Linked DNA regions of Homo sapiens. The protein of the gene in region 1 interacts with the protein of each later gene in a biochemical or structural test. Each region holds a gene or a part of one and is shown on either strand. Other genes may lie near its edges.

Region 1 (7,607 bases):
GCTGACACCTCTTGGGGTGGAGAAGGGGGATGCCCAGGTCCGAGGCCCTTCCTCCACTCCATCGTGGCCTTCTCTCCCCAGCTCCAGTAAGGAGGTGGCCCCCGCTGGCTCGGCTGGGCCCGCGGCCGGCCAGGGGCCTGGGGTCCGCGTGCGGGACATCGCCTCGCTGCGGCGCTCCCTCAGGATGGGTTTCATGACGATGCCCGCCTCCCAGGAGCACACCCCGCACCCCTGCCGCAGCGCCATGGCCCCACGCTCCCTCTCCTGCCACTCGGTGGGCAGCATGGACAGTGTCGGGGGTGGCCCTGGCGGGGCCAGTGGGGGCCTCACAGAGGACAGCAGCACCCGAAGACCCCCTGCCAAGCCCCGGAGACACCCCAGCACCAAGCTCAGCATGGTGGGGCCTGGGTCTGGGGCAGAGACGCCCCCCAGCAAGAAAGCAGGTGAGATACCCCCTATCTCTCCCTGGGGTGGAGCTGGGAGCTGGGAGGATCTATTCCACGCCCGGGGAGGCTTGCCGGGAGGGTTCATTCAGGGAAGAACCAAGGAAGTGGAAGATTCCATTCTCAAAAGGAATTGGGGGGGTCCTTTTGGATGGGCCTGAGATGAACCATTCAAGGGCAGGGGACACTCCCTGAAAAGTTCTTGAGAAAGGGGTGGTGGCCTCAGAGGGACAATGAAGGTAGGAGCTGCGAATTCTGGAGAATACGTTAGAAAGACTGAGGGCTGTGGGACAAGCCCCGTGGCTCACGCCCGTAATCTCAGCACTTTTTTTTTTTTGAGACAGAGTCTCGCTCTGTTGCCCAGGCAGGAGTGCAGTGGTGCGATCTCAGCTCACTGCATCCTCCGCCTCCCAGGTTCAAGCAGTTCTCCTGCCTCAGCCTCCCAGGTAGCTGGGATTACAGGCGTCCGTCACCACGCCCGGCTAATTTTTTGTATTTTTAGTAGAGACAGGGTTTCGTCTTGTTGGCCAGGCTGACAAGGCCAGGCTTGCTGGCCTCAGGTGATCCACCCACCTCGGCCTCCCAGAGTGCTGGGATTACAGGCGTGAGCCACTGTGCTTGGCCAATTAATTGACGTTTTAAAAAGACCAAGGGCTGACTAGTAGAAAAGGAACCTACAGCTGGGCATGGTGGCTGATGCCTGGAATCCTAGCACTTTAGGAGGCCGAGGCAGGAGGATCCCTTGAGCCCAGGAATTTGGGACCAGTCTGGGCAACATGGCAAGACCCATCTCTATTAAAAAATAAAAAAGAAATGAAGAAACCTCCTGGGGCTGTAAGTTGAGGAATGTGGGGAAAAGGAAGAGGCAGATATGTCCTTGCAGAAGGGTCAAGGGATCAGAATGGGCTCCTCCCACTTGCTCCCCTCATTAAAAGCCTGGTTTATTTTTCTCTTTCTTGTCCTGTCCAGGCTCACAGAAGCCAACCCCAGAGGGCCGAGAGTCCAGCCGGAAGGTTCCTCCGCAGAAGCCCAGGCGAAGCCCTAACACCCAGCTCTCTGTCTCCTTCGATGAGTCCTGCCCCCCAGGCCCCTCTCCTCGAGGGGGGAACCTGCCTCTTCAGCGCCTCACTAGGGGGTCCCGAGTAGCTGGGGACCCTGATGTGGGTGCCCAGGAAGAGCCTGTGTACATTGAGATGGTGGGGGACGTCTTTAGGGGAGGAGGACGAAGTGGAGGAGGCCTGGCTGGGCCCCCTCTTGGGGGTGGGGGCCCGACCCCTCCAGCGGGCGCCGACTCGGACTCTGAAGAGAGTGAGGCCATCTATGAAGAGATGAAGTACCCGCTGCCGGAAGAGGCTGGGGAAGGCCGGGCCAATGGCCCTCCACCATTGACGGCAACATCCCCGCCACAACAGCCTCACGCCCTTCCGCCCCATGCCCACCGCCGCCCAGCTTCAGCCCTCCCGAGCCGGAGGGACGGGACGCCCACCAAGACCACTCCTTGTGAAATCCCCCCGCCCTTCCCCAACCTCCTTCAGCACCGGCCTCCACTCCTGGCCTTCCCCCAAGCCAAGTCTGCTTCCCGAACCCCTGGCGATGGGGTCTCAAGGCTACCTGTCCTCTGCCACTCCAAGGAGCCAGCCGGCTCCACCCCAGCTCCCCAAGTGCCTGCACGGGAGCGGGAGACGCCTCCCCCACCGCCTCCACCTCCTGCTGCCAACCTGCTGCTGCTGGGACCATCGGGCCGGGCCCGGAGCCACTCGACACCGTTGCCACCCCAGGGCTCTGGCCAGCCCCGGGGGGAGCGGGAGCTCCCCAACTCCCACAGCATGATCTGCCCTAAGGCGGCGGGGGCGCCGGCAGCCCCCCCTGCCCCGGCCGCCTTGCTCCCCGGCCCCCCCAAGGACAAGGCCGTGTCTTACACCATGGTGTACTCGGCGGTCAAGGTGACCACGCACTCTGTCCTGCCAGCTGGTCCACCCCTGGGTGCTGGGGAGCCAAAGACGGAGAAGGAGATCTCGGTCCTCCATGGGATGCTGTGTACCAGCTCAAGGCCCCCTGTGCCAGGGAAGACCAGCCCCCACGGTGGGGCCATGGGCGCAGCAGCTGGGGTCCTCCACCACCGCGGCTGCCTGGCCTCCCCCCACAGCCTTCCGGACCCAACTGTAGGCCCCCTGACCCCGCTGTGGACCTACCCAGCCACAGCAGCTGGGCTCAAGAGACCCCCTGCCTATGAGAGCCTCAAGGCTGGGGGGGTGCTGAATAAGGGCTGTGGTGTGGGGGCCCCATCCCCCATGGTCAAGATCCAGCTGCAGGAGCAAGGGACCGATGGGGGTGCTTTTGCCAGCATCTCCTGTGCCCACGTCATCGCCAGCGCAGGGACACCAGAGGAGGAAGAAGAGGAGGTGGGCGCCGCGACATTTGGGGCAGGCTGGGCCCTGCAGAGGAAGGTCCTCTATGGAGGGAGAAAAGCAAAGGAGTTGGACAGTGAGTGAGGGGTGGGGAGTGGGGGCTGGCATCAGGGGTGGGGGGCAGCTGGGGATGCCTGCGATGGTTTGGGGGAGGTGTTGGAGGGGTTATTTGGAAGTCACAGCCTTGAGTCTGGGATGTTTTCTAGGAGACCAGAGAGGTGGGGGTGGGCGATAGACAGAAAGACCGGGGTCCCCCAGTGTGCGCTGGAGGGGCAGGAAGGTCTGGGAGGCGAAGGGGGTCAAATCTGGCCCTGTCCTGCTCTGCTCCCTGCCCCTCCCTTCCCGGGGCTGCAGGGGTGTGTGCTTGTGAGTGTGCGCACCAGGAACTAAACACAGCTGCCTCCCAGCTGTTACCATGGCAACCCATCCAGACAGGAGGGAGAGGAGAGGGAGGCCCCTACCGTTGCCTGGCAACGCAATGCTCTGCCAGGCCTCCTCTCAGAGATGAGCTTAGTTCACAGGCAGCCCTTCCCCCCAGCGCTCCCCCTTCTGGGCTCAGGAATTGGGATTCTCCCCCTACAGGTCTTGATCCCAGGGGGATGGTCATTCTCGCCCTATCTGGAGATGGAGGGGCTTGGAAGCTAAAGCTGCGGTTGGGGAGGCCCCTCTGACCAGGGAAAAGGGTTTGGATGCAGCACATAGACATGATTCTCAGCCCCAAGAGATGGTACCAATGGGTGGAAAGGAAGGGGTGTGTGTGTGTTTGTATGTATGTTGGGGGAGTGTGAAGGAGCCCCATCCCAGCCGTTACTTGCAAAAGGGGCAATTGTGTCTCCTGGTCCACCCATACTGCAGCATGTGTGGCCAGAGGGACAGAATGACGCCTCCAACATGCAGGCACACAGCTCTCCTTGTCATCCCAGCAGAGGTCGAGGACGGTGCCCGGGCCTGGAATGGCAGTGCCGAGGGTCCAGGCAAGGTGGAGCGTGAGGACAGGGGCCCTGGGACATCGGGGATCCCAGTGAGAAGCCAGGGGGCAGAGGGACTGCTGGCCAGGATCCACCATGGAGACCGAGGAGGGAGCCGCACCGCGCTGCCCATTCCCTGCCAGACCTTCCCCGCCTGCCACCGCAATGGAGGTGACGCGGCCTGCACACACCTGTGCACAGCGGGGCTGGCTGGGGGATCTCCCGGGGTCTAGCTGCACCTGTCCTGACTTCCTCTCACCTGTTCACGTCTGTGCCCAGGGCCCTAAATCCTCATACCACATCTCCACCCCTTTTTCCCTTCTGATGAGGCAGGGGCAGCCTGGACCATTCAAGGGCAGGGGACTGGGAACTAGGGGAGGGGTACCTGAGGCCCCTGCACTCCTCACTCCTCCTTCTTCCACCTCAGACTTCACGGGAGGCTACCGCCTGGGGCGCTCCGCCTCCACCTCCGGAGTCCGGCAGGTCGTGCTCCACACACCCCGGCCCTGCAGCCAGCCCAGGGATGCCCTGAGCCAGGTGAGGCTTGGTTTTTCTTTTATTTGTGAAGGAGCAGGTGGAGAAGGCTTGAATATGCAAAGAAAAGCAATAAAGGGGCCAGGGCTGGGCACAGTGGCTCATGCCTGTAATCCCAGCACTTTGGGAGGCCAAGGTGGGAGGGTCACTTGAGGCCAGAAGTTCATTAGCTTGAGCAACATAGTGAGACCCTGTCTCTATTTTTTCTTTTTTTTAAAAGAAGGCTAGTTGCAGTGGCTCACACCTGTAATCCCAATGCTTTCAGAAGCCAAGGCAGGTAGATTGCTTGAGCCCAGGAGGTCGAGACCAGCCTGGACCACATAGTGAGATCCCATCTCTATAAAAAATGCAAAATGTAGTCAGGTGTGCCGTCGCAAGCCTGAATTCCCAGCTACTCTGGAGGTTGAGGTAGGAAGATGGCTTTACCCTGGGAGGTGGAGGTTGCATTGAGCCATGATCACGCTACTGCGTTCCAGTCTGAGCCACAGAGTGAGACCCTGTCTTAGAAGAAAAAAAAAAAAAGAAAGAAAGGGGCCAGGCAGGGTGCGGTGGCTTACGCCTGTAATCACAGCACTTTGGGAGGCCGAGGCGGGCAGATCACTTGAGGTCAGGAGTTTGAGACCAGCCTGGCCAATGTGGTGAAACCCTGTCTCTACTAGAAATACAAAAATTAGGGCCAGGTGCGGTGGCTCATGCCTGTAATCCCAGCAGTTTGGGAGGCTGAGGCGAGTGGATCACAAGGTCAGGAGTTCAAGACTAGCCTGACCAACATAGTGAAATCCCATCTGTACTAAAAATACAAAAATTAGCCGGGCGTGGTAGCGCACGCCTGTAGTCCCAGCTACTCGGGAGGCAGAGGCATAAGAATCGCCTGAACCCGGGAGACGGAGGTTGCAGTAAGCCAAGATCGCACCACTGCACTCCAGTGGCCTGGGCAACAGAGAGAGACTCTGTCTCAAAAAAAACCAAAAAACAAAAAACAAAAACCCCACAGAAATTAGCTGGACATTGGGGCAGGCACCCGTAATCCCAGCTACTCGGGAGGCTGAGGCAGGAGAATTGCTTGAACCCGGGAGACGGAGGCTGCAGTGAGCCAAGATCATGCCACTGCACTCCAGCCTGGGCGACAGAGTTAGACTCTGTCTCAAAAAAAAAAAAAGGGGCCAGGCAGACTGGGGCCTGAGCCAGCGCAGACAGCGGGAACCCAGGAATGAGAGTGAGGGGGTTGGGAGAGGATCTGGGAAGGGTTTGAGGGTTTGCTTAAGATGGGCAGCAAGGTAGGGCCCAGCTTGGAGATCAGTCAGGGCCACCACTAGCCAACAGCACACCTTTGTGCGATTTAGGAAAAAGACCTCCCCACTGGGCACTATGTCTTGTGCCTGCAATCCCAGAACTGTGGGAGGCAGAGACGGGAGGATCGCTTGAACCCAGGAGGCTGAGGTTGCAATGAACTACGATCCCACCACAGCACTCTATCCTGGGTGTAAGGGCAAGACCGTGTCTCAAAAGAAATAAAAATAAAGAGGTCAAGCATGGTAGCTTACGCCTATAATCCTAGTACTTTGGGAGGCCGAGCCAAGAGAAGTGGTTGAGCCTAGGAATTCTGTACCAGCCTGGGCGACATAGGGAGACCCTGTCTTTACAAAAAATTTAAAAATTATCCAGACATGCTGGTGCATGCTTGTGGTTCCAGCAACTCTGAAGGCTGAGGCAGGAGAATCACTTGAGCCTGGGAGGTGGAGGTTGCAGTGAGCCATGGTCGTTCCACTGCACTCCAGCCTGGGTGGCAGAGGGAGAACCTGTCAAAAGAAAGAAAAAGAGAGAGAGTGAGAGAAAGAAGGAAGAAAGAGAGAAGGAGAGAAAGAGAGAAAGAAAGCAAGCAAGAAAGAAAAGAAAGCAAGAAAGAAAAGAGAAAGAAAGAAAGGGAGGAAAGGAGGAAGGGAGGGACCTTGTCTACCCTTGCCCCAGCTGGACACGGTAGTTGATACCTGTGATCCCAGTGCTTTGGGAGGCCAAGATGAGAGGATCCCTTGAGGCCAGGAGTTCAAGACCAGGCTTGGCAACAAAGCAAGATCCCATAAATACAAAAATAAACTTTAATTTAATTTTTTAACAATTAGCTGGTGTAGTGGTAAATGCCTGTAGTCCCAGCTACTTGGGAGGGAGGCTGACACTGGAGGATTGCTTGAGCCCAGGAGGTCGAGGCTGCAGTGAGCTATGATTGCACCACTGCACTCTGGCCTGGGCGACAGAGCCAGACCCTGTCTCAAAAAGACAAAAGAAAGAAAAAAAAGGGGAGATCCCTTCTAGGGGGACCAACTTAAAAAATGCACCTGTCTAGGAAGACTAGGGAGTGGCTGGGCCAAAGCTGCGCAAGTTGGATTTTGGCCCCCATGGGCCCCACAGCCAGAGGGAGCCAGCAGAGGCCGTTGGGGGGCAAGCAAGGACTTGCTTCTGAGGGGAGACGTGGGTCTCGGCAGTGCGGACCCGTCCGGTCATGCTGAGGTCCCCGACCTTACCCGCGTTTTCCTTTCTCCCCCGCCCGCGGCACAGCCCCACCCCGCGCTGCCGCTGCCTCTGCCCCTGCCGCCCCAGCCGGCCCGCGAGCGTGACGGGAAGCTGCTGGAGGTGATCGAGCGCAAGCGCTGCGTGTGCAAGGAGATCAAGGCGCGCCACCGCCCGGACCGAGGCCTCTGCAAGCAGGAGAGCATGCCCATCCTCCCCAGCTGGCGGCGGGGACCCGAGCCCCGCAAGTCCGGCACCCCGCCCTGCCGCCGGCAGCACACGGTCCTCTGGGACACCGCCATCTGAGGCGGGCGGGGGGGTACCGGGGCGCCTGGACTGGGGAGGGGGCGGGCACGCCTGGCTCTCCCGGGAGCCTCGCCTTGAGAGACATTGAAAGACTACGTGGGAGAGTGCCAGGGAGAACCCCTGCCCTCCAACCTACCCCCCGGGATGGGGAGAGTCTGCCAGGCCCATTGGGCTTAGGATGCCAACAGCGCTGCTGAGAAACGGAGGAGGAGGAGGGTTTGCTTGAGGTTGGGGCGAGAGTCGCTCTGGCTGTTCTTCCCGCTGGGCGTTGTACACCCCTCCTCCTGAACCAAGCCAGAGGTCAGCATGGGGAAGGGAGGAAGGAAGGGATGGGAGGAAGAGGGGGGTGGGTGAGCTGAAAGAGAGGGACTAGAGTGCCAGATGGAGGAGCTCTTTTCTAGAGAGCCGGGAGTTGGGGAGGGGGTATTTATTTTGTTATTTAT
Region 2 (7,607 bases), on another chromosome or scaffold:
CACTCATCTGCCCACAATTCTTGTGTGCCTGTGCATAAAATGGGGAAGAATTTAGCAAAGAGTTTCATATCACAGCTAAGGAATTAAGGTTGGATGCTAACTCTAACGAGAGAGAATTATGGGGACACTGGAAAGGTTGAGGAGTACAAGATATGAGAACGAGAGGGTAACGGGATGGAGGCTGATAAGGGCTATGCAGAAGCGATGAGTCAAGGGATACAGTCAAGGAACTTGCAGACATTCTGGAGATATGAACAGAGAGTTTGGAAGTAGAAGGGCAAAGAGAAGGCCTTCTGGGCTGAGTATTCAGAGTGGGGGTAACACCTTATAGTGGACAAAGACTATACTCTTTCACAGTAATTTCAGATTATGCTACCTCATTTGATCCTATCAGTCCTACACGGGGCAAGTACTGTTATCCCAAATCAGAGGTAAATAAAAGATTACAAGAATATTGAACTGAATTGCACAGCAAAAGCAGGGATGGAGCTGAGACTAAAAGCCCAAGCTGTCTGCTTTCTTGGCAGAGGTGAGGTGGGATAACAGCCCGGTGGGTGAAAGCCAAGTTAGGGGAGACGGGGAGGAGGCAGGGGGCCATTTAGTCAGTAAGATTAAGCAGCAAAGCTCCGCGGTCATCCCAAATACTTTCCCCTACCCACATTCACCTGGAAGATCTTACGCTCTCCCTTCTGCTTCACATACTCCTTGGGCAGGAAGTCCTTCAGGCTACACCAGAAAAGGGAGGGTCAGCATGTGGTAGACAGCATCAGGGGACATGTGGGCCATGAACTGTGGGCCTGGGGGTATGAGGAAATACCTAGGACAGTGTTATCTTTGGGGAGAAAAAAGACTCTGAGGGAATAGAGTCTAGATTATCTTCTGAAATAGAGGTGACTTCGTGTAAACTCTTCTTTTTTTTTTTTGAGATGGAGTTTCACTCTTGTTGCCCAGGCTGGAGTGCAATGGCACGATCTCAGCTCACCAAAACCTCCACCTCCCAGGTTCAAGTGATTCTCCTGCCTCAGCCTCCCGAGTAGCTGGGATTACAGGCATGTGCCACCACGCCTGGCTAATTTTGTATTTTTAGTAGAGATACATGGTTTCTCCACGTTGGTCAGGCTGGTCTCGAACTCCCGACCTCAGGTGATCTGCCCGCCCTGGCCTCCCAAAGTGCTGGGATTACAGGTGTGAGCCACCGAGCCTGGCCAGTATGAATTCTTAATGTGACCTGTGTCTCTCCCTGTAGGGAAAGGGACTGAGGAAAATTAAGTTAGAGGCTCAGTCCCTGAGGGAAAGTGGGTCTAGAGCACCATTTCAGGGAACCAAGAGGAGAAAGAGCTTTCTAGAAGGATGAACATGCACTTAGGAAGCTGAGAAAGCCACGCCAAACTCTGCATTCCAAGAAACACCAGCAGATGAGGCTTGTGAGACTTTTAACCCATGTTCCCTATAGGGAAAATTTTACCCGGTTTCCCTCTGGCTACTGCAGCAAAATTCTTCAGATAATCTCAAAAAAGAGTGACATGCTTGCTTCAGAGATGGGGGTAGGGGCAGAGATACTGAACTACATTCATATTCCAGAGGCAGAGAAGAGACAATGGATGATGGCAACTAAAAGGGTAGCTATGTTGGTCAAACCCTGGTACCTCGGAAGAAGAAATAGTGGGGGGCAGGCTTGGAATGGAGACAGGCCCACTGGGGTCACAATGGCAGGGAGTCCTGGGCCCTGACAGGGTATAGGATGTGGGTCACTCACTCAAGGAAGCCAGCCTTGTGCTTCTGCTCATTGTGGGGCCCAAACTGGATCTGGCATTGGAAGCCAGCAAACTCACAGGCCTTGTCAAAGGAGACAGGGTGGGAGCCATTCAGGATGTCATCTCGTGCCTGGAGAGCACAGGGCAAGGAGGCGAATGTTGTGTGTGGGTGCAAGGACACGCACACTGTGCTTCCGAGCCCTCCCTATTCCTGCCCCACCCCAGCCAAGTCCTCTGCATACCTGCACATACAGGAGGTTCAGCTGTACAGGGTCCCGGGAATCCACATTCTGGTCTGAGTAAAAGAACTTCCTCCGCAGCAGCAGCGTCTCGTGCTCCTCTACACCCTGCTCCCTCAGTGTCCGACCATGGTCCAGCCAGTTCACTGGGATACAGACAGTCCCCTCAGTGCCAAACCCCCATGGCCCCTGTGCTGTCTGGTCTCTGTTTATTTCTGCATTTCCTACCTCCCCTCACTTAAATGTAAGTCCCATGAGTGTAGGACTTTGTTTTCTCACTGATGTATCCCCAGGGTGTAAAACAGTGCCTGGCAGAAGCAGATGCTGAAGCCCCTTCCCACCCTTCCCATTTCAAAAGCCCTCTTTTTTCTAGTTCTGCTTACACTCATCATCTGTGTGCAATTTCTGCTTTAGTTTCTCCATCTTCTTTTCATCTCGCAGCAATGTCTTGTCCTTTCTTAAGGTCCCTGTTATTTCCTCCTTTTTCTCTTCCATCAGCTCTCGAACCAATGAATATTCATCATGATTGGTGATGCCTGAGGAAGGAGATGGCTTGTTAGCTTCCCAGGTACTGCATCCATGCCTTTTGAGAGAGTTGAGGCTTTCTGGCCCAGGCTTTCAACTGTACTAGGGCCCCTTACCAATGCGGGCACAGATGGTCATGAGCATGTCAGTGACAGTCTTAGAGTCATCCACCATGATCGTCTTCACAGTTCCATCCAGCATACGGATCTTCAGGGGTCTCTGTTTCTTCCTGTACTCCATAGTGTCCTGTTAGGGCAGGAAGAAGAGACAGGGGCCTACTCTGAGCTAGGGGTATTATTTCCTCTTTACACAGCCCGAGGGGAGAGAGTGGAGCACTGAAAGGAAGACTATGGTGGTTCGTTCAAAAGCAGGGAATTATGACTGTCTGTTAATAGGAAGAAAGCATGGGGAGGGCTAAGAGACAACAGATGTGGGTGCTGAAAACAGGAGGTGGAACAGGGAGAAGCTGATGGAAGGGGATGTGGTGGTCCTTGATGAAAGGATACTTACCCCATTTCGGAGCATGTAGTAGTCCAAAGCTTTCCCAGCCTCCAGCCATATACCCTTTTTGGGGTCATCATCTGACAGAAAGAGCCCAAAGTCGCTGGCTAAAAGAGAGGATGGATCACTTTAGGCTTATGAAGACCCCAATGTGGCTGAACAGCTTGTACCATGTTGCCCCTGACTATTTCTCCCATGACCTTGGGCCTAAAGAACGAGGGAACCATGGAACACAGACCTGAGGGGTGAGTAGTCTTAGGGGACAAAGGGGTCAACTCTCAAGGCCGAGAGCCTGGGAACAAGAAGGGACTGAAGACTCCCACTCCAGCCACCGGGGGAGTCAGACTCACGAGGACCAGCTGGGGCCTCTGGGATCCGCTCACGAATGATGCGGCAGGCGTCGTACACCATGGTAGACGGCTCAAACTGCATCGTCTTCACCACATTCCCAATGCTGATCTTCAGTGAAAGTGCAACCATGGTGGCAGCTTCTTTTCTCCAGCCTGGCTATACCTGACCCATGGCATCAGGGCATTAGAATACACTCTTCTGGTGGGAGAAGAGGCCCCCCAGATGGTGGAGTCCAAGGGAAGAGTGTTTTTGAAAGGGACTCACCAAAGTAGATGGTAATAAGGTTGTTTTCATTGTATTTAATAATTTTAAAGAGTGAAAAATTATTTACATCAAAAGAATGAGTCCTGACAATTTTTTTTTTTGAGACAGAGTTTCGTTCTGTTGCCCAGGCTAGAGTACAGTGGTGCGATCTCAGCTCGCTGCAAGCTCCGCCTCCTGGATTCACGCCATTCTCCTGTCTCAGCCTCCCCAGTAGCTGGGACTACAGGCGCCCGCTGCCATGCCTGGCTAATTTTTTGTATTTTTAGTAGAGACGGGGTTTCACCATGTTAGCCAGGATGGTCTCGATCTCCTGACCTCGTGATCCACCTTGGCCTCCCCAAGTGCTGGGATTACAGGCGTGAGCCACCACGCCCGGCCAAGTCCTAACAATTTAAGACATCTGAGGGAAAGGAGAAGCTGGTCTGCAAGGTACAATAGCAGGTCTGAAATGCAGTGCTACCTGAGGACACTGCCCTGCCCCACCACTGGAATTTGTACCTCCCTACTTTCATCCAAGTATCTCTCTTGCCCCTTGTCCCTGATCACCTTTCTCAGCCCTACTCCTGCCTTCTTTTCATTTTTGCCTGGTTCAGTATTTTTCTCTCTTTGTCTCCTGCTGTGTCCTGCTGGCTCTTCCCTGTCCGGGATTTTCAGAGCTCTCTTCTCACCACGTGACCTTCCTTCTCATGGCTTTAGCTGCCTTCTCTGCAAAATGAAGATGTTATAATTCCCTAAGGCTCTTGAAGCCTGCAAACAAACTCTAGCTAGCCTGGCAGGGAGACCAAATACTGGTTGCTCAAGCCATTCAGGGGTCCGCTCTTGCCCCAGCTTTTTTCTAACCTGAGATGCGGGGGCCTTCTGAAGGAGCCTAGCCCTGTACTGGGCTTCCCAGGCAGTCAAGCTAGAAATGTGATTCTCTAACTCAAAGGGATCTATCTCAGAAGTTATCTGGTCAACTCTTGTGTTTTGGAGAAGGGGAAATAGACTCTGGGAGGCCAGGAAACATTTTCAAGACAGGCCAGAGAAAGGACCCAGTCCCTGTAACTCAGTCCTTGCTTGTTCCAAGTCATCAAGTTAATACTCAGTCCTGCAACTCCTCCCATGCTTTCTCCTCTTCAGCAAGTCTGTCTCGAATTCTGCTCTGTCTCACCCACTTCCCCTGACTGTATTTTCAGTGCAGCTCAGAATACTAGTCCTACCCCACCTTCTTCCACCCTCCTGGCACCCCCTCTCAGCAGGCTAGAGGAGGCACTGGAGGCAGCAGGTGGCGCACAGGCTGCAAGAGGACAAGTCTGCCCGGCTGCTGCTGATGTGCCCCTGCTTGGTACAGGGATTGGGTGCCTCTTAACTAAGAGAATGGGCAAATACAAGCTGCCCATTCCCCTCCTGGCAAACTACAAGCCTCAAATGGGGAAAAGCAGGGTGAGAGGGGAAGGCTGGAAAGCAGAGATGGGGGTGTTAGGATACAGAAGGCATTTGAAAGCCAGGGAAGTTAAGAAGGGGTAGAGGGTAAAGAAGTTAGGAGAGATGGGATGAGGAGAATTGAAAATCTAAGTAGAAACAAGAGACAGGAGGCAGGTATGAAAATGGTCTAGATCAGCGGTCTGGTACCAAGTGGCAGATAGACCATTTCTGACCTTACAAGCAGTCCAGAGTCTCAAAAGAGAAGAACCACAGCTCTCTGTCTTTACTCCCCAATAAGAGAGGACCCTCCCAGTCTCCCCAGTTCCAGCTCTCTGCCCCCTCCCCACTCCTGGGGCACTTTGCCCAACCTTATTACTATCCGCTTGTGTCCCAGCTGGACAGACCTGGCTATGGGGTTGCTGACCATGAAAGAATGAGGGCTGGGCTGGTGGATCCGAGAAGCTGGAGGAGTCTGTGGAGCCAAGAAGCAGGACTGAAAGGACCCTTCACACTAAGCTGAAACTGCATGTCTCCCCCCATTTCCTCTGGACACTTAGACACCCCCTTCCTCCTCAAGCACGGAAGCCTCTGGTGAGACCCCGATAAGGGAGCTGAGTCATGCCTACCCTTACTCCCCAGCTGGTCCAGAGTGGATATTCACACAGCTACAAGAGGGTGTGTGGACGCGAAGAACTGATCAGTGAATTGTGGGTGGTGGTGGCAAAGAACAAGGCTGCTACAAGTATGAGTAGAAGCTAGCTCATTCCTCCTTTGGCCTGAGAACTTTGCTCCCTTTTCCATTGTGTTTGATGGAACAGCAACTCCCCACTGCCGTGTCCCCCTCCCAGGGAACTCCTCCTCCCTCAATACATTCCTGCGATGCATTCCAAAGAAGTTGGGCAATTGGAGGGGGGGAATGGAGGACAGGAGGTCAAATCCCAGCAAGGAATGGAATGTAAGAGTATTGGAGCTAAGAAAGTTGGGGTACTTGGAGAATATAGTCAGAGCAGATACCCACAAGGGGAATTGCAGAAAGATAGGGAGTTACAGACAGGAACAAAAGGAAAGAGCTTAAGACAGTCAGAATATAAGAGGGATGGGGGAGTAACACTCAGTCTGTTACCAAATTTGGCCTCTGAGTCCGCAACCGCTGGCAGTGGGGGAGGGCTGTGGGTGAGACTGACATATCCGGCCTCAGGCTGCTGGAGACTCATTTAGAGCTGGACTGGGCAGCTAGCTGAAGGGCTGCACAGAACTTCCCCCGGTACAGCCCCTCCATACTCAAATGCACACTCATTCTCCCCAGATGCACCCCAGCCTAGGCAGAGCTCTTTCCCACAAAGCTACCTTACTCTCTCTATACACACATTATCTCAATCACACAGCCCCCACACAGATCCCATCACGACTGCATTATCTTCTCCTAGGGAGCCCATCCTATGCACACAGCTTTTGCACAGATAACCTCCATAACAAGCACACCCGGCACCCAGTGTCTCTCCTCCCATTATGTAGACATTCTCCATTCACCCAGCAAGCATTCCTTGAGGGCCAGCTGTGGGGAAGACCCTGGGCCAAACTTTCAGTGGCTGGGGACCAAGATCAGTAAGACCTAGCCTTTGAGTTCAAAGGGCTCCCAGTCCACGAGATGAGTGAATAAGCCAAGTACAGAATCACAACGGAGGGCAGGATGTGGTAAGAGCCAAAAGGTGTGTGCTCAGAGAGATCCCTTTAGGTCAGGGAAGGGGAACCAAAAAGTCTCCATGATAAGTATCATTTGAAGCTAGAATTTTAAAAAATAGAGATAATAAAAAACAATAGTGATCTGCCATTTATTGACTATGTCACTTGCATTGTATACATAATTTCATTTAATCCTTACAGTAGGTGTCATTATTTCCATTTTTACAGATCAGAAAACAGACTCAAAGATGTTAAATACTTGTTCAAATACTTCTCCAAATAATAAGTTGTGAAGCCAGGATCCGAACCCAGGTTTCTGACTGCAAAGCCCAAGCTTTCTCCACTACGCCAGCCAGCTGGAGATGTGTCAGGGGTAGTTTTCACTCCAGGCAGAGAAATAGCATAAGCAAAGATGGAGAAGCAGTAAATCGTGGAGGAGCATTCAGGGAAGTGAGCAGGCAGGCTGTTGAAGCACAGGGGTACCTGCAAGGGAGCAGTGGTGGGGAAGTCAGGGTTAGGATGGAAAGGCAGAGGAAGACTGGAGAGGGGTATGAGGAATTTTACTTATTGGAGGACAAAAGGAAGCCAAGGGAGTCTTTGAGCAGAGAAGAGACATAACCGGAACTGGATTTTAGAAAAATAACTCTGGCAGTTACCTTGGAGATTAGTTAGAAGGACACTGTATTAGTACAAATTAAAGGTAATGAAGCCGGAGTTGGAATGGCATTGAGGAAGATGTCACTCAGAACAAGTTTGGGGAGGTAGAAATGACAGGACCTAATAACTACTAAGGTAGACAGGTTAGAGTCCCACAGCTTCCTATCATCAGCAGCCACTTTAGCGGCTGGGGCAGCTTGAGTTTAGGCGACGAATTGGGAAGAGGGGA
Region 3 (6,424 bases), on another chromosome or scaffold:
TAGGCAGTGCTTTGGTGATGGGCTACACTGGGCTGGCTGTATGATCATCGTACTTCTTGGGCAGCAGCGGCGTTTTGCTGTGCTGGATTTCTGCTACCATCTACTTAAAGTCCAGAAACATGATGGCAAAGATGAGATTATTAAAAATGTGGTATGTGGATGAAAATCTCGCACCATCTATGGACCTTTTGCAAAAGCATACTTTCTTTGTGTTATAAGTTCTTGTTTCTGGCAATGTTTTTCATCCTAGTACGTAAGGTGCCACCAACAGAAACTTTCTTTTCGTTCCCAAAATGAATCTAAATATAATTGGCCAGTAAAGCAGTCTGGCAGAGAAAATACTCATTGTTCCGTTTTCCTTCTCAAGGTACTTAGATTTACTTCCAGTCTTACAGGATCTGCATTGTCAGAATATTGGCAACTATAGTCTTCGGGCCCCTGGAAGTCTGTGCTTTCTTGGCTGCTTTAAAGGCCTTTTGTCTTTGTTGCTTTATGGATCCCTCATAGTTGAATTCTGGAAAATACTCAGCCATTATCTTTGAAATATTTCAGCCTCCTTTCCATTCTCCCTATTCTTGCCATTCAGGACTTCAGTTAAACATATGTTAGACCTTCTCATTCTATTCTCCACATCTCTTTGTTGTATCAGTTTTCTTTTTTCTTTCTTTTTTTTTTTTTTTTTGAGACAGTTTCGCTCTTGTTGCTCAGGCTGGGGTGCAATGCCACGATCTTGGCTCACTGCAATCTCTGCTGCCCAGGTTCAAGTGATTCTCCTGCCTCAGCCTCCCGAGTAGCTGGGATTATAGGCACCTGCCACCACGCCCGGCTGATTTTTGTATTTTGTAATTTTGTATTTTTAGTAGAGACTAGGTTTCACCATGTTGGCCAGGCTGATCTTGAACTCCTGACATAAGGTGATCCGCCCACCTCCCAAAGTGCTAGGATTACAGGCGCGCCCAGCCCTGTTGTATTAGTTTTCTATTGCTTCCATGACAACAAATCACCACAGGCTTGGCAGTTTAAATACCACTGATTATCTCACAATTCTCTAAGTCAGATGCCTGAGTTCAGCCAGGCCCAGCTGGGTCCTCTGCTCAGTCTCATGGGGCCAGTGTCTGAGGTGCTGGGTTCACCCTGGAGGCCTTCAAGCTTATGCACAGTTGGCTCAATTATTCCTTGCAGCTGTAGGACTGGGTCCCCCTTCCTTCTCATGCTTTCCAAGTGGCCCCCTCCAGCAATGGTGGGTTGGGCAGTCTCAGCCTCTAGTCTTCTGCCATGTCTCTCCTGCCTCCGGCCAGAGAACATTCCCTGACTGTGACTATATTGAGCCCACTGGACAACCCCAGATACTCTCCCTGTTCTACAGTCCAGTCTTAGCCACACCTGCCCAGGCCCCGTGGAGTGGAGGCAATGCAGTCACAGGCTCCAGGTCATGGGCCTCTCTCAGGGGCCCTTCTGCCTCCCACTCCTCCATTTCCGGGGCTCCCAGAGCTGTGTCCAGATACTGTATTCATGTGTCTTAGTTAACTTGTTTACTTCAGCTCTAATCTGCTGAGCTTTTACTCTGAAAATATTATTAGTTCACTTTTTAAAGTTCAATTAGGTTCTTCAAATCTTCTTGGTAACTGACAGTTTTATTGTCTTAACTGAACTTTTTCCATCTCTTATTTCTTTATCCAATTCATGTATTCTATATTCTGTGTGTTTTCCTTCTAGTATCTGAAGGCCTTGGAGGTATTTAAAACTTTGCTGTTTCCTTGTGTGTTGGGTTATTTGGGAGTCTTTATTTAACTGGAGTTAATTTAGATTGCTTTCCCCCAAGATGTGCATTTGTATCTGCCCATCTCTATGGGGTGCTACCAACTCAGGGCCGCTTTAGCCGAATTGGAGGTCCTGGCTTCACTGGGGAGTCTTCGGTGTGGTCCCGCTTGCTTACGCCCGGGCTGCTCCTCACCCCACCGCCGCTGTTGGCATCTGCCCCTGAGGAGGCCCTGGCTTCCCCCTTACCACCTGCATAGGTAGAACCAGCTTTTCAAAGCGTTTTGTTTGCGTGTATGTTCTTAATTCGTGTTCTTTATTCCTGTGGTAGCAGGAGGGTCTGTCAGAGTATCCCGTCACAGTATTTCCAAACTGGAAGTCTAAAACTTGTGTTAGTTGACTGGCCTTTCTCCACTGACCACATCATCTTCATCTGGAGATCCCCAGCTTTGAGCAGACAGTAGGTTCTTAATTGCCAATGTGGAAGGAATAGGCCTATCAATTGTGCGCATGAATGAATCTACAGCAGCATGAAGCCAACAGAGGGATTCTAAATTCAAAATATATTCATCCTTCCAACTGTTGCATTAAAGAGATGGTATGTGGCTGGGAGTGCTGGCTCATACCTGTAATCCCAACAGTTTGGGAGGCTGAGGCAGAGGAGGATTGCTTGAGCTCAGGAGTTCAAGACCATCCTGGACAGCATAATAAGACCTTGTCTTTACAAAATTAAATTTAAAAATTAGCTGCGTGTGGTGGTACACGCCTGTGGTCCCAGCTACTCAGGAGGCTGAGGTGGGAGGATGTCTTGAGGCTACAGTGAGCCGTGATCATGCCACTGCACTCCAGCCTGGGCGTCAGAGTGAGACCCTATCTTACAAAAAAAAACCCAAAAAGAACAGTATGTGTGTCAATTCCGTTTGCTATTATTTTTCTGAGAAAATATAAGAATCCTGACATTTTGAAACATGAAGAATAAATGTTGAAGTGTTAATAGTAAAACATCCTCACTTTGATGGTTGTAGCCTTTGAAGAAGATGGTGGAGAGAATTCGCAAGTTCCAGATTCTCAATGATGAGATCATCACCATCCTGGATAAGTACCTGAAGTCAGGCGACGGGGAGGGCACGCCAGTGGAGCATGTGCGCTGCTTCCAGCCGCCCATCCACCAGTCCCTCGCCAGCAGCTGAGGGCACGCGCTGCACTCCGTAACTCAACATGGCATGCCTTTCTCTCCGTAAACTATTTAGTGAGATTTTTAGGGACTATTTTTCAGTATCTCTGTACCTGTTAAAGGGGGTGCTTTTCGATCTAAAAACTTAATTTTATAAAATTGACTTATTTTTCTAGACTAAAATTGTATATGCTTTTGGTAATTAGGAACTCTTGAGAATATTGGCTGCTGATTGTTGCCATCACGTTCCTACAAAATTGTTTTTCTATGGGATGTTCTGGCAGCTGTGTCATAAAATGCTGCTGGGTTCATTCATTCATTCCATAAGAAACTTAATACCAGCAAATGCATTAAATCCCTTGCCAGTTACCATTAACTGTAACTATTTAGCTTTTGTTTAGGGATCTTTCTGATGGTCTTTTATGAGCAATCTTAGTTCTAAGTCATTGTTCCCATCCCTTTTTTGTGTGTTTCAGAAAATAGTGAACTTGATTCCCCTGCTTCCACTAAATCCAGTTGTGACAAAATCTAACGTGACATCAGATCGAAAGGTTATAGAAATAAAACTAATGAGATCTATTTGTGTTCATTTATTTACTCTAACCCTGTGCTGCCTGGCTTGGCAAGGAACTCTAACCTGAACTCACATACCAGGCCAGCTGGGATGGAGGTCACCTCTAAGGCTGAGGTGGGATGGGACCGTGACACCATCCCATATACCGCTCACCTCAGCACAGGTTTAGCTTTATATTTAGGGTTCCGCAGGCAAATGAGGTGTAAAACGGCCGTGTTGGCTGCTCCAATCTGGATATGAAGAGGCTACTCAGTGCCTCTCTGTTACCTGTGCCCATGACCTGGAGGAAGCCAGCAATGTGGGAGGAGATCAGTCAGGCCCAGTGGGTGCTGCACAAAGGGACCGGGAGCACCGAGTCCAGCCTTCAGCTGTCCCCGATCCACAGGGCTCACATGGCTGGAGCTGGTTCACATGATCTGTCAGAATGAAAAACAATCGGTCTAGACTACCAGTAGAGTCACGAACATGTTTGAGAAACTAAAGCCATATTTTAAAAAGTACTAAGGCAATGAGGTTCTGAAAATCCTAACTAACTGAATGGAAAAAGATGCTATGCCTGTTTATTGTAGATGAATACTACAGATAAACACAAGTCCAGCATGATTAACTGAACTCACTTTATATTGTAGCCTGGCAGTCATTTTACATTATTTGGAGTATTGCAACCTTCACCAATTTTAAAATTTTCTATGGATGCCAAGTTGCCATAAAAAGCAGGCCTCGCCTACTTTTCCGGAGGCCTTTGGAAACTGTCCAGAAGCATATGATGCACGGCACAGAAAAGTAGTAAGTGTACGAACCATCCTGTTACACTGCCAAACTCACTCAAGTGACATGAAGCCTAACAAACAATTATTCTTTCTTTATAAAAAGTTCCCTAAAAATGCTTTTGGTAATGTGAATTAATAACCCTGGGGCCAGCATTCTGCTGCAGATTTAGAGGTGGTAGCTGTGCTTATCTTAGAAACTACAGAATAGGATGAAAAATTATGGTAAAACTTAATCAATTACCAAGTTTTATAAGGCTTAATTATATACCAAATATGTAATACCTTAGGTATAAGACAATCTCAAGTGCTACAAAATGTTAAATAAGAATTTATTATTTATTAACCTATGCATGTTCAAATGAGTCTCTGTCCTCAAGGGGGAGAAAACTGGTTCTTTTATGTACAAAGCACAGATGTAGGTACAGTATATAAACAGATACGTAGTACATCTGTAGTATTAAAATGGCATGGGAGGAGGCAGTTAGAAAAAACATCTAAAACAGCTCCTTAGAAGGCCAATAATAAAGTTGGAAAAAAGGGAGTTTCCACGCAGCCAGTGGTGAGCTGCATGGGATACCAGCACCATTGGCAGGGGAGGCCCTCGGGGAGTGATGGCTTGGCGCTGGCGCACCACTGGGTAACCTCCAGGCAGGAGCCACAGGCTGGAACAGGCGAACACTTTCTTCCCATCACCTAGGTGGAAATTAATTCTGCCAATACTTTTTTTTAAAGGCCAGTCAATGGTTATGAGTGGATAGGTTCAAAGCTGAATGGAGTTCATTAGACCTTTTTTATTATTCTACCTTTTCTGCATATGTTTGCAGTTTTCCATCGACTTCTTCATAAACAAACATTTTCTAGAAACCAAAATATGTAGTGGCCCAAAGGAGCTCTTAAGCAAAGTACTTGGTACAAAGAGACCATATTCTATAAACATGTTAAGTTTGTTCTAAGCATTCAGACTTTTAGAATAAGAACTTCATTTCAACTTTTTATTATAACATGAGCTAAATTTAAGAAACAACCCTAGTCTTCTATTTCCCAGAGCTGTTCAAAGTCTAAATGACAATATAACTCATTATGAAAATATACTGAAAAGTACAAGAGCTGATGTAAAACGGTAATCAAGGTTCCAGGCATCATGGGATTAGGGTAACTGAAGAATAAACCCAGCCAGGCTGCAACAGCAGGCAGGATGTGCTGGCTTGATGAGGTGCTAAGGCCATCGAATGCTCAGAGGAAGCCGGATTCACGGTGATCATCTCAACCTGAGAAATCGTTCCTTGGGGTGATTTCTGCCCTTTTTTTTGTTTTGTAAGAAAGAGGTTCCTTCATTCAGTAACTTAGTTTTCCCTTAATAAATATTTCAAAAATAAAACCAATCATCATCAAACAAACAGGAGCCACTTTTGTAGGTAAGGTAAATCACAGGATAATGTATTGGGATAACTCTGTTTTTTTAAAATAAAAAAGCCTTACATGGTCAGGGATTGATGGAGTGGGGATGACAAATGCACATTTCAGACTTTCATCACCAATGAAAAAATAAAGCATTTTCATAGACTTAAAACTGTCATTAGTGCATTCGGCTTTTGGAGAAGGGATGAAAATGTAAAATACTTCTACAACAATAAAATGTTAATAGAAATCGTCATGTGCTGAGGTCATTTTAGTGAGCTACCATTGTTTGTTTAAATACAAGAAAAGTAATTTCTTGGTCCAAATTAGTGAAATCTTTAAAAAGATTGCCTTTAAAGAACATTATTTGAGGACAATGTTTTTTCAGACACATTCTGATGATATTCAAATTCACTTCATAACAATCACAGATTAACCTTTAATTACACCTTTCTTAAAAAGCTGTCAGATTTCCATTTCTTCGGGAGACATTTTCACCAGTGTGTTGTTCGATTCCACAGGTTAAGCTTTCTTCATTATTATTAAGAACTTCATACATATTAGAGAGATTGCCATTCATTGCTTTCTCGTCTTTTCGAAAAGACACAGGCAGACTTGCTAGACTAAAGCTGACGTCTTTAAAGGCATGCAACAAGAATATCCCCACAATGATTGTAAAGAAGCCACTCAAAGTACCAATGACATCGTCAACAGGCATATCTTGCCACTCCTTAAAAAGAATAGCTGAAC

Evidence for each region.
Region 2: the proteins of NYAP1 (region 1) and TLN1 interact in a test that uses a peptide from one of them, tested with the Homo sapiens proteins (one study listed by BioGRID).
Region 3: the proteins of NYAP1 (region 1) and CYFIP1 form a complex in vitro, tested with the Homo sapiens proteins (one study listed by BioGRID).

What each region holds. Positions count from the first base shown.
Region 1 is NC_000007.14:100,486,740-100,494,346, forward strand, and holds part of NYAP1 (neuronal tyrosine-phosphorylated phosphoinositide-3-kinase adapter 1), read left to right. Parts: intron 1-81; coding exon 82-443; intron 444-1,412; coding exon 1,413-2,927; intron 2,928-3,777; coding exon 3,778-3,990; intron 3,991-4,246; coding exon 4,247-4,356; intron 4,357-6,906; coding exon 6,907-7,164; 3' UTR 7,165-7,607. UniProt on the Homo sapiens protein: Activates PI3K and concomitantly recruits the WAVE1 complex to the close vicinity of PI3K and regulates neuronal morphogenesis.
Region 2 is NC_000009.12:35,722,196-35,729,802, forward strand, and holds part of TLN1 (talin-1), read right to left. Parts: intron 3,533-7,607; 5' UTR 3,500-3,532; coding exon 3,370-3,499; intron 3,127-3,369; coding exon 3,029-3,126; intron 2,765-3,028; coding exon 2,635-2,764; intron 2,530-2,634; coding exon 2,377-2,529; intron 2,140-2,376; coding exon 1,997-2,139; intron 1,885-1,996; coding exon 1,757-1,884; intron 727-1,756; coding exon 666-726; intron 29-665; coding exon 1-28. UniProt on the Homo sapiens protein: High molecular weight cytoskeletal protein concentrated at regions of cell-matrix and cell-cell contacts. Involved in connections of major cytoskeletal structures to the plasma membrane.
Region 3 is NC_000015.10:22,866,552-22,872,975, reverse strand, and holds the end of CYFIP1 (cytoplasmic FMR1-interacting protein 1), read left to right. Parts: intron 1-3; coding exon 4-151; intron 152-2,783; coding exon 2,784-2,948; 3' UTR 2,949-5,924; downstream 5,925-6,424. Other genes in the region: magnesium transporter NIPA2, read right to left, coding at 6,129-6,424. UniProt on the Homo sapiens protein: Component of the CYFIP1-EIF4E-FMR1 complex which binds to the mRNA cap and mediates translational repression. In the CYFIP1-EIF4E-FMR1 complex this subunit is an adapter between EIF4E and FMR1.